Regions from separate parts of the Homo sapiens genome. Here region 2 is linked to region 1. The links come from fine-mapping of genetic effects on gene expression. A gene starts in region 1. The other region holds a variant in brackets. All regions are shown on one strand. Distances are between the middles of the regions. Region 1 holds the start of SNX19 (sorting nexin 19). Region 2 overlaps SNX19 (sorting nexin 19).

Region 1 (5,380 bases):
AGGCAAGTAAAATCCAATGGGTAGGATCTTGTCCAAGAATTTTCTTTCTCAACTTCTTCCCTGCTGATTTCTTTTTCAAAATACTGGTACATTTTGTACTTTGTTTTAGGAAGGTAGGTTATTTACCTATGTCTATCTCAGAAGATAGCAAGTTTTTGACTCTTGGAGGTGTGTAAGCAGACTTGGGAACAACTTGACAAGAGATAACATGAAGAGGGTTGGTTGGATTAGAGAGGCAATTCCCCAAGATGGCCTTAGGACAGGCTGACTCTATGTTATCTGGAGAGTTCTATTTGAAAATAAATAAAATACAGAATCCAGGGACCCCCTCCTTAGAAATTCTCATACAGAATCCAACAGAGTCTGTCAGAATCTGTATATCTGAAAGGCAGCTCAAGTGATTTTGAGGTGCAGCCAAGTTTGGGAACCACTGAAAATATAACCCTCAGCATTCTAGCAGCCCTGAGGTTCCAGGATTGCTTGTGTGAGTACAGGATAAACGCTACTCTGCCTTACATATTAGCTTCAGACCATTCACAGAGATAGATGCCTATTGAAAGAACCACTTCAAACTAACAGCATCTCTCCCCCAAGAACATTTGCTTCATGACTGCTTTCCAAACCCACTCCTAGCCCGGGTGAGCACCCACAGCTTTAATCCTGTTACCTTCACAGTATAGAGTGTGTATGGGTGGAATCCAGTGCCACTGTGCTCTCGGGCTGTAATGGTGCCAGTGATACGAAGGTTCTGGATGATAACTGGACCATCGGGACTGCTTAGGGGCTCAAAGCTGAAGGTGGCTGAGCTGAGAGGACCAGGTGGAGAGGAGGAAAGCAGAACTGGTGGCAGAGTAGGATCAAGGGAGCTCACATCATTGGTGAGATCCTTCTCTAAGCATGACGGCCGTGAGGGGCAGGTCTTTTCTGGCCCCTCCAGCAAAGCTGTAACAGAGGCGGTAACATCTCCTTGTTCTATCTCCTTGTCTGCTGTGTCAATATGGATCTCTGGGCAGGAATTCAGTGTGGAGACCGGCAGGCCTGTCTCTGTTTCTGTCCCTGGACCCTCCTCAGCCTCTGCTCCTTCAGATGCCTCACCATCTTTGGGTTCCAGAGCCTGGGAACTCTCTAGGGCACACAGGGCATCCTGAATCCTGTCAGAGAGAAAGCTGCCTGGAGTCATGAGCATGATGGTTTCTTTGCCCAGTTCAGACAGCGGAGACTCCAGCTCTGAGTCTTCACATAAGAACAGGGGACCTCGAACATTTGGCTGTAGGAAATGAGATGAGTTGTTTCCTACTTTTCTTTCTTCACACATCCCACCCAAATCTCCCTCTACAGCTTCGTGGCCTTCTTCAACCTCTGGAGAGGGGCCTGCAGAACCCTCTGGCTCACTGTAACTTAGGAATACTGGGGCTGCTACTGGAGAAGCTCTCCCTTCTGGAAGCTGCTCTACCTCAGCAATCAGTGGCAGAGATGTCGGCACTGAGGGCTGTTCGGGGGCACTGGCTGGGCAGGGTGCTGGATCTCTGGCCTTGGAAAAGATACCCACGAGTACAAGGTGGATCCAGTCAGGATCTGACAGCCTGCTGATCAGTGGTAAGATTACATTGCATGTGATGAGTTCGACCACTACATGGCGTCCGGTACGAGTCTCCAAGTGGGGCTTGGGCACCAGCCCTTGAAGCAACAAATTCACAACGCCACGCGTATAGGTGACTTCAGCACTGGGGCTGTGCACAGCAGGATGTGGGGCAGTCGCCCGGCAGTAAGCCTCCCAGAGGTGGGAAGGCTCAACTGGACCATTCTTCCCTGCAGTGGCCTCCTTTGCCTGAATGTAGCTCTGCAGGTGACAACCGCAGAGAGTCAGAACACTCTGGGCAACAGCATGACTGTCCATCACGCTCATCCTTCTCCGAAGCTCCTGGACCAACCCTTTCATGGCTGCCTCCATTTCTTCCTCAAAGGCTGGCTCCTGGCTCACGGAACGGTACCAAGATAACACAAAATCTCGAATAATCATCTGGATGGTGCGGTTGATCTCCCGTTCCAGCTGCCTTTCTGCCTCAGGGCATGGAGGACAGGTGGCCAACGGGATGAAGCGTTCCAGATGCAGTCGACCTGAAGCCACTCCAGCGAGGCTGGAGCCCAGCCATCCTCCCAGCACCACTAGCAATGCCGACAGAAGGCACAGCAGCCACACGTTGACCAGAAGGTGTATGACCAGGAGCCAGCCAAGCAAGACCCCCACAGCCATCAGCTTCCGGCTACTCAACAGGTTATTGAGGTGACAGCTCGATCCAGCTGGAGTTTCCTGGAACGGTGGCACTGTTTCTGTCTTCATGGCTGAACGGACAAGGTGGCTTCCCCAGATGACAGCCCTCAAGATTTTACTTCAGAGTTAGGGAAGGGGGGCATGAACTGTGTCTCAGATATGGGGCGATCTGGGTGCTGTTCAGGGAACCGGGGCTCCAGGCCCTCAAAGTCCTACAGGCACTGCAAAGCGACAGCTGCAGCTCCGCGTCTCCCCATGGCTACCACTAACAGAGCCCTCCAACTCGCCCCTTCCAGCTGAGGTGTGGCTTTGGAGGAAAACTCTGTGGCCTTCACACTGCCCCAGGCGGAAGGCCTCTTCGGGGCCTCGGGGCGGGCGCTGCAAGGCCCTGGGGCCCACGGACACTTACACACGCAGCGGGCAGCGGCCGGCGAAGACTGGGTCACACGCCGCCGGGAACCGCGCGCCCACACTCAGCCCCGACCTGAAGTGGACTCATCGCGGTCCTCTCCGGGAGCCTCGGCCCTCTGCCGCCGTAAACCTGGGCGACTGCGCTCCGCAGCCGGGCCTGTGTGAAGGCTGACCGCCGGCCGGCCGCCGGCGACAGCTTCCGGGTCGACGTCGACGGGAGCGAGGCATGCTGGGAGAGCGTCCGCGCGCGCCCCGAGGAGCGGCGCTGCCCGGCGCCCTCTGCTGGCGAGGAGCCGCCCTGACGGCCCTGCGCGAGGTAGTCTCTGAGCCTGAGCGTGAGCCTGAGCGCGCACGGGGCGCGTGCTCGCCAAGAGCTGGCGCAGATTTCCGAAGTGCCACGAAACAGCCGCCGCAGCAATCACCGCTAAGACCCAGACTTCCAGGCGCTTTAAAACGCGTCCTAGTTCTGGTTATTAAATGAAGCCTGTCCTTTACTGCTTAGGCACGCTGTCAATAATCCGGTTTATTTTAATTTCATGGAGGCGAAGTTTCATTGGCCTGATGTGTCTTAACATTTATCCGGTTTCCCCTAGAGCCGGTACCCCGCGTCCCCAGCACAAAGACCCTCATTTGTTGTCAGGAATTGCAGAATATAAGGCATGAAACGATACAGAGATAGATTTATGTTGTACATTTCATATACTGTATCACAAAATCAAATTTGTGATTGAGGGTTATTTGCTGGTGGCATTACACAAACAATCAAATATTTTGAGCATCTGCTGTCTTCAATGTGAGAGGCAGCGTGGACGAATAGAAGCAGACCTTGTCCTCCAGGACCTCCTGCTAACTGGGGATGCCAGCGCTTTGAACGCGATTGGCTATCTAGTAATGCCAGTCAGCGTGCGATATAGTAAAATACAAAATCTTATAGGAATTCAGGGGAAGGAGAGATCACTGTGGGTTGCAATGGTTAAGGAGAAGCTCACAGAAAAGGTGCCTTTCTGCTGAGTCTTCAAGGATGAGGGTTTCTATTTCCCTCTATCTCTTCTCGCCTTATCCTCCCCAAAAACATAGAAAAGGAAAGCAGAGATAGAGGTGTCCTTTCAGATAATCCTGTAATATATTTGCTTTGGAATATGCTCTATGTTGGATTGTTTTTGGTTTTAGCAAATTAGACTTCACTTGTCTACACAGGAACCTATAGGAAGACAAAATACCGGAAGCACTGACCAGGTGTCAAAAGTGTTAGTGTCAGTTTTGCGTGAAGCCAGCTTCCATGTCCACCTTGGGCCCTAGGAGCTGTGCCCGCAGGGTGGGTCTCCTTTCCATTTAGGCATAGGATTCGCATCGTTTGCACAGAGCTGCTCATGGTTGCCCTTCGTCCACCTTCTCTGTGCTGTGAGCAGTCTTTCATCATCATGGACTACTCCCTAGATGTTTAAAGGAATCTTCAAACAAATCCCAACCCAAAACTCTGCCAACAAGAAGTGCGTTGCAGCTTCCTGTCTCGTCCATTGCTGCTGTTGGGGCAGAGACTTCCTTTGAATACGAAAGAAGCCATCATTTAGATGTGACCCGTAGTTTACGATTCATCACTTCTAAAGCAAATGGTTTGATTTAGGATCAGTGTCCACTAAGCAGACTGGGCACTCCCGTGAGATGGCAGAATGTGAATCCACGGTTTCACGGTCCATACCTTTTCACTGCTGCCTGCCTTCCCGCAGAAAAGGAACCCGAGAAGTGGGCTCTGCCCCTCTACCTTCCCAGACCATTCTAATGTCCTCAGGAGCACTTAGAAAATGGCAACAATGCTCTGGAGAAAAGTCCCTGCCACCTAGTTGGGAGCTAAAACAGAAATGTGAATGATGAAGGGACTACCGACGGTGCTGAAGACTTCCTGTGGCAGTTCAAAGAGAAAGTTTACTTGGCAGCATAATCTGGAGTGTTCAGGGCAGTAAGGAAGTGACCTTGCAAGTGGGCGCTATGCCACCTGACCAGATGGTCTGGAGCATCAAGGTAGCCAAGAGTGCCTTCCTGATTCTGAAGCGGGTTTGATGGACATGCCCGTGCACTTGTCATTTGGACGGGTGTGAGCTCCTGCCTGGGGGTCTGGGCAGACCCTGGTCTCCAAACAGATTAATCACTGGGAGGAGGTGAGAGTCAGGACTGATGTGCCCTGGTGTGTGTATGTGGGGTGGGGAGACTTGGCCACACCACTCACCATCTGGAGACGTCCTTCCTTCTTTCCTTTTCCCTATTTCTCAAAACATTAAAGGCATAGTGCTAGAGTGTTGGAGAAAACAAGACAAATAAGATACAATAATTCTCCTCAAGGGACTCTCAGTCTAGTTAAAGGAGAGACACATAAATATATAAACGTAATGAAACATGATCACGTGTGTAATGTGATGTGTTCTGATGTGTTGTAATAGAAGTGCATACAATAAAATCGAAACACAAAGCGGGTGGTCAGCTGTGGAGGGGGGTGGCTCATAGACAGTTTTCCCTTAAGTTGGGAAATGAAAAAGAATTGAGTGTATTTTAGGAAATGTTGGGTAGCGAGAGCAAGGGGCAAACAGAAGGAAGGTCTTTCAGGCAGAGGCCTGCTCATAAGAAACAGGCAGAGACCATGAGAGCAGGGGGGCCCGTGACATAGGCCCTGCCAGAGCCAGCCCGCACCCCACTTGAATTTTC
Region 2 (5,380 bases), 30 kb before region 1:
ATCTGGAAGGAAAACATGATAAAGAGCAAACCAAAAAAATCACCACCACAACTGCCACTGCCCTCACACAATACAATCTCTAAATTTTTTAAGCTGTAATTCAATTTCTAAGACACACTTTATTATCACTCACTATGCCTTTCTTAAGTTGTAAATGGCTGTATATTCAGGGATTTGGTATACTTTGCCTTGCCCAACACCTGGATGGAACCAACTGCCACTGGTTCTTGAGAGCAATGAAGAAGGTGGAGATTTCTTCATCCAAATATCTTTCCTCTCCCTTTCATCCCTACCTTCCCTTCCTTTGGTTCTATCATCCTTCTCTAAGGTAAAGCTCCATACACACCACCATTTCATTATCTAACTTTATTAACTCCCCTAATCATGCTTGATTTATTTGGAAACTGGCTAGAGCACGGAAGACAAAGACATTAGGTGTAGGATTGTTAAAAGGGGCAGAAGTCTCAACTCCTCTCCATTAACTCTCTTCATCTCGCGATTTCTACACTGCATCTTTCTATTCTTATCATAGGAGTGGGAAGGTTAAAAAGAGATTCGTAACCCTATAGAGCTCTCTTTAAGTGGAAGGGATGGAATTTATGTGTCTGAACTCTAATACATCATAGGAGGTTTTCCAGCATCAGTTTCTGGACTTTGCTGGTACCATTTACTATTAGGCTGACAGAAATCTAAAGCTTCAAGGTCAACACACACACACGTTTCTCTTACTATTCATTAGAAATTACTTATAATAGGCCGGGCATAGTGGCTCACACCTGTAATCCCAGCACTTTGGAAGGCTGAGGCGGGCAGATCACCTGAGGTCAAGAGTTTAGACCAGCCTGGCCAACATGGTGAAGCCTCGTCTCTACTAAAAATACAAAAAAAATTAGCTGGGCACGGTGGCGCACGCCTGTAGTCTCCAGCTACTCGGGGAGGCTGAGGCAGGAGACTCGCTTGAACCCAGGAGGCAGAGGCTGCAGTGAGCCAAGATCACGCCACTGTACTCCAGCCTGGGTGACAGAGGGAGACTCCATCTCAAAAAAAAAAAAAAAAAAAAAATTACTTATAATAAATCATTTACTAAATACAAATGCTCTTGTTCATGTAATACAAGATGCATGAAGTAAATATGCTAAAATAAATATGGTAGAGAATAGCCTCAGATAGCACTGGTTTTATTTTCCACTACTATTCCAGGTCTGATATTTGATTTAGAGATATCTCTTTCTATTATCCTGCCTTCATCCCAAAGAAGAGAAGAAAAAAGAACCCAAACCAGGTCTCTTGTGTCAAGCCATCTCTGAATGATTCAGAGCCTTAATAGGGGGCCTAGAAATAGCCAGTAAAATGGCCAAAAAACCCCACTCCACAACCACATTTTGACCCCAAGACATTCAAGAGCTTCCCTTATGCCAGACAGGGGAGAAGAAAGGATGTGGAGATCAGGGCTTGTCAGTAGCTGGGACTGCACATCCACTCCATGTTCAAGGGAACCTGGTCTGAAATAGCCGCAGATAGGGGAATGAAGCAATGACTAAAAAGGAGACAGTTTAATACTAGGGCTTAAGATGGCACTTCAAGGTTAGTAGAAGGTCATTTCCCATCAAAACAGCAGAATCAAATCTCATGAGTAAGGAGAAGGCTTTAGAGACCATGTCTAATCCAATTAGCCAAATCCCCTTCATTTCTTTTCTAAGACAGCAGCTATGGCTGAGTGAGAAAGGGTCTTGAATCAGTATGGCTTAATGAAGAGGAGAAAGGGAAGAAGATACTAAAATCATAAAACAGAAAATATTCATAAGATCCACAACAATATTCTAAACAAAAATGCCTGGTGCAGTCTAAATATAAGGAAAATAACAGGTCCATTCCTTCCAGCCTATTTATCTATTGGCTGTACCTCTATAGACAATCCAAGGGCAATTATGCTCCAACCTTAAGATACCAAATACAGTTCAAAGGAAAAGAGAAAGAAAAGGAAGATCAAGTTAAAGCTTCTATCATCCTAAGTACACCTTCAGTAAATTAGAAGTATTGACTTATTTTATTACCCTGAGAGCAGGGTTTTCAACGTTGGTACTACTGATATTTTGGACTGCGAAATCTTTGTCATAGGGGCTTTCCTGTGCATTATAAAACATTCCACAACATCCTTGCCCCTCCTCCCCTCAAACTAGATGCTAGTTTTGCCAACCAAACATGTCTCCAAACATTGCGGCATGTCCCCTGAGGACAAAATTGCTCCAGTTGAGAATTACTGCCTTAGACCCAGGGACTTTTGGATATAATTGTATCAGGCTACTTTCACAGTCATTTTAAACCTCATGGTTGTAGCGCAATGTTTTTCGACCTGTGGGCTGGACATCATTAGAGGTCATATCATCTGTTTTGTTGTTTGTGATAACATAAAAAGGCATCTCATGTTTGGAGACACTTGTTTCGTATGTATGTACATATATATGTATATATCAGATCTGCGTGCATGCATATGTGTGTATGCGCCTGTGCCTATGTGCATGCTCACAGTGGGCTGCAACGTACAATGCATTTTTTACTGTAGGTTGAAGTTTTAAAAAAAGTTTGAAAAACACTCATGCAGTGTCAAGAATTAGGAGTTCCGAGAGAAAGTAGGAGAAGCCCAAGCCACATTTTTAGCTTCCTGGAAATGCTCCCCATCTCCACCCACCCAAGCACCCTGTAAAATGTTTGCAGGGGCCTCAACCATGAACACTGTGTTCTGTACTGCCAGTCCTAGCACATAAGTATGAGTATTGGCTCATCCAATCAGTAGCAGCAATCTATAGGGTGGGAGAGAAAGGAGGTCTTGGAGGTGATGGTGTAGATTCAGGACATTATCCATTAAACAAAATGTTTTTGCCCATTTCACACCTGATAAAAGTTATACTTCTTTTCTCTCTGATGCCGTTCCCAGGCCTCTGTCTTCCTGCCATGGCCCCTTCTTGTGTTTATAGACAGTTTCCCCTGTCAGCTCTCAGCTCTAGGCTTCTGTCCTGTAACTATCCAGACCCAAGTTACTCAGCTGTGTCTGAGAAAGTTCAACACTGCTGCCCTCTGACTGTGTATCTAGGTCACCATCCTTTCCTG[C/A]CCAGTGCTGGGGAAGAATGAGGAGGAAATGAACCCCGAGGGCAAGAAACTACCACTTCTTTCTCCCAATACTACTGTGAAATCTAAAATGGCTCAGAGTTGGCACAATTTCTTCTCTGATTTTTGCTTTCATGTTTTAAATCATGGATCCACATCTTTGAATCATGTACTTCAAGGGAAGACTTGACATTCTCCTAAATACCACAATATAAGAATCTGAGTTCCATACATTTATATCTAGCCACAAACAGTTTTTGTTTTTGATTAGTAATGTACACATCACAGATATAAAATTAATATGTATTAAAAAATGGAAGGATTCTTAAGGAAGGAACTTCAAAAAATCATCTGTTCAACCTTAGTGGTTTTTCCAATCTCACCAACTCTACATATGAAAGCATTGGGCACCAAAAGGAAATATTTTACATCAAGTGGCTTATAAGAACATACAACTTGAGAGTTGGAAGGAAACTTAGAGGTTATTTTATCCAGTCTCCTCCCAAAGCAGAAACCTCCTCTGTAATATAACGGCATAGACAAGGGTTGGGTCCTGTGAATCCAGAAACTTGGGCTTTTATCTTAGTTCTGCTACCCAATTAGCAATGTGACCTCAGGCAAGTGGCTTAATTCCTTAAAAGCATAATCTAAATTCATTGAAGATGCTTCTTAAACCTTGCCAACCCAAATCGGCCTCCTTGTGTTAATGAATTCTAGTCATTGGTCCTAGTTCTACTCTCTGGAGTTACCAGATATTAGGTTAAATCTCTTCCAAAAGACAACATTTTGCATTTTTAAATTCAGCTATTATTTCTCCCCTATGTCTCTTCTACATCCCATACATCCGTGATTTTGCCAACCTCAAAGACACTCAATAAATGTCTGATGAAAGAAGGAGAGAAATGAACCACTCCTCAACCTGGCTCCATCCTCTGGGTGTGCTGCTTAGCTTTTCTTTTAAAATGATGTGCCCAGAACCAAACAGCTCTGAGATGTGACCTGACCAGCAAAGAACATAGGGGATTGAGCCTTCCTTTAGATTTAGATACTATACTTCTCATACAGCCGAAGATTGTGTTAGCTTTTTGGCACACACGTCAAAAGCACTGACTCATATTGAGTTTTCAGCCAGCTAAAATCCTAAGTCCACACAGGTACATTACAAAAAAAAAAAAAATCGTGTGCCCCTCTGTTAAGTATAGTCTTGCCCTTCTGTATTTGTGCAATTAAAAAAAAATCTAAATTATAGTTCATCTTGTTGGCTTTAGATTATCATTCTAAGTTTTCTAAATGTTTTTGAATCTTAATTTTCATCATCTAGAGTTTTAACTACTCCTCTAAGATTAGAATTACTTGCAAATTTTCTGATGAAAAAATTGATCAGGATAAGATGAAGAGCAGTGCTCTATTACTAGAAATTTCCCTCTAGGATGGCATCAGTTTATGATATTATTTAATACCCTTGGGCTAAAGACACTCGACTAGCCACAAATTACTTAAATGTACTATAATGCAGGCAACATATTCCATTCTGTCCATATGGATATTATGGCAAAAACTTGTTGGAATCCATACACAATGTAACTACAACTGCATGCTAATCAGGCAGGGCACACTCCTACTGAACCCATAATGGTTTCTAGGGTTCCCCATTGCCCTTCCCAAATGTTCACAAACATCTATTTCGTCATCTGCTTCAGAAATTTCCAGAAATAAATGTTGGGGTCAAGAACCTTTAACCATTTTTTAAAAAGGCAAGATATCTGTGCATCTCTAACCCATATGGACAAATGGCAATGTTTCTTAATGACCTTAGGTCTTTAATGTTAAATATAAATTTGTTAAGTTTCATGGGATATAATTCATCTAGGCCATGTACAGGTTTAAATGTACAAACTTTAAAATAGGTTACGTGCTCTATTATTATTTTCATTTCTATTTTGGTCGCCAATTCTACTTTAATCATGTCTGTTCAATTCTTCTTGCTAGGCCATTTTCCTTGACAAAGAAAATAGAAAACAGCCTAGCAAATAATAGACCCATTCATTCACTGCTGAATGAATGAATAAATGCTTTCACCATGTAATCAGTTGATACTACAGCATCTGTCCCAAACAATTACCTACATATATTTTTTCTTGTTAGTAACATGTGACACGTGTATGTGTTTTTCACCTAAGTCTTTTCCCTTAATATTTATCTACAACCTCAGCTCCTTCTGAGTTGAAGCTTACTGGACCCTGTTCTTACTAGTTCTATTACTACTATTTTTGCA

The links. PIP is the estimated chance that this variant, and not a neighbour inherited with it, causes the effect.
Region 2: its variant is the best candidate, but not a certain one, in a credible set for the expression of SNX19 in lung (TOPMed, PIP 0.57).

The regions. Positions count from the first base shown.
Region 1 is chr11:130,913,599-130,918,978 of GRCh38, forward strand. SNX19 (sorting nexin 19) reads right to left here and starts at 2,881. Exons shown (of 11, transcript NM_014758.3): 1 at 668-2,881. The coding sequence starts at 2,341. RefSeq lists an enhancer at 2,624-2,673 and a silencer at 2,794-3,073.
Region 2 is chr11:130,883,832-130,889,211 of GRCh38, forward strand. All of the region lies in intron 8 of SNX19 (sorting nexin 19), which reads right to left. Among named protein-coding and RNA genes, the nearest start is that of LINC02551, 24 kb to the left of the region's middle. The variant C/A (reference allele first, on the strand shown) is at 3,109.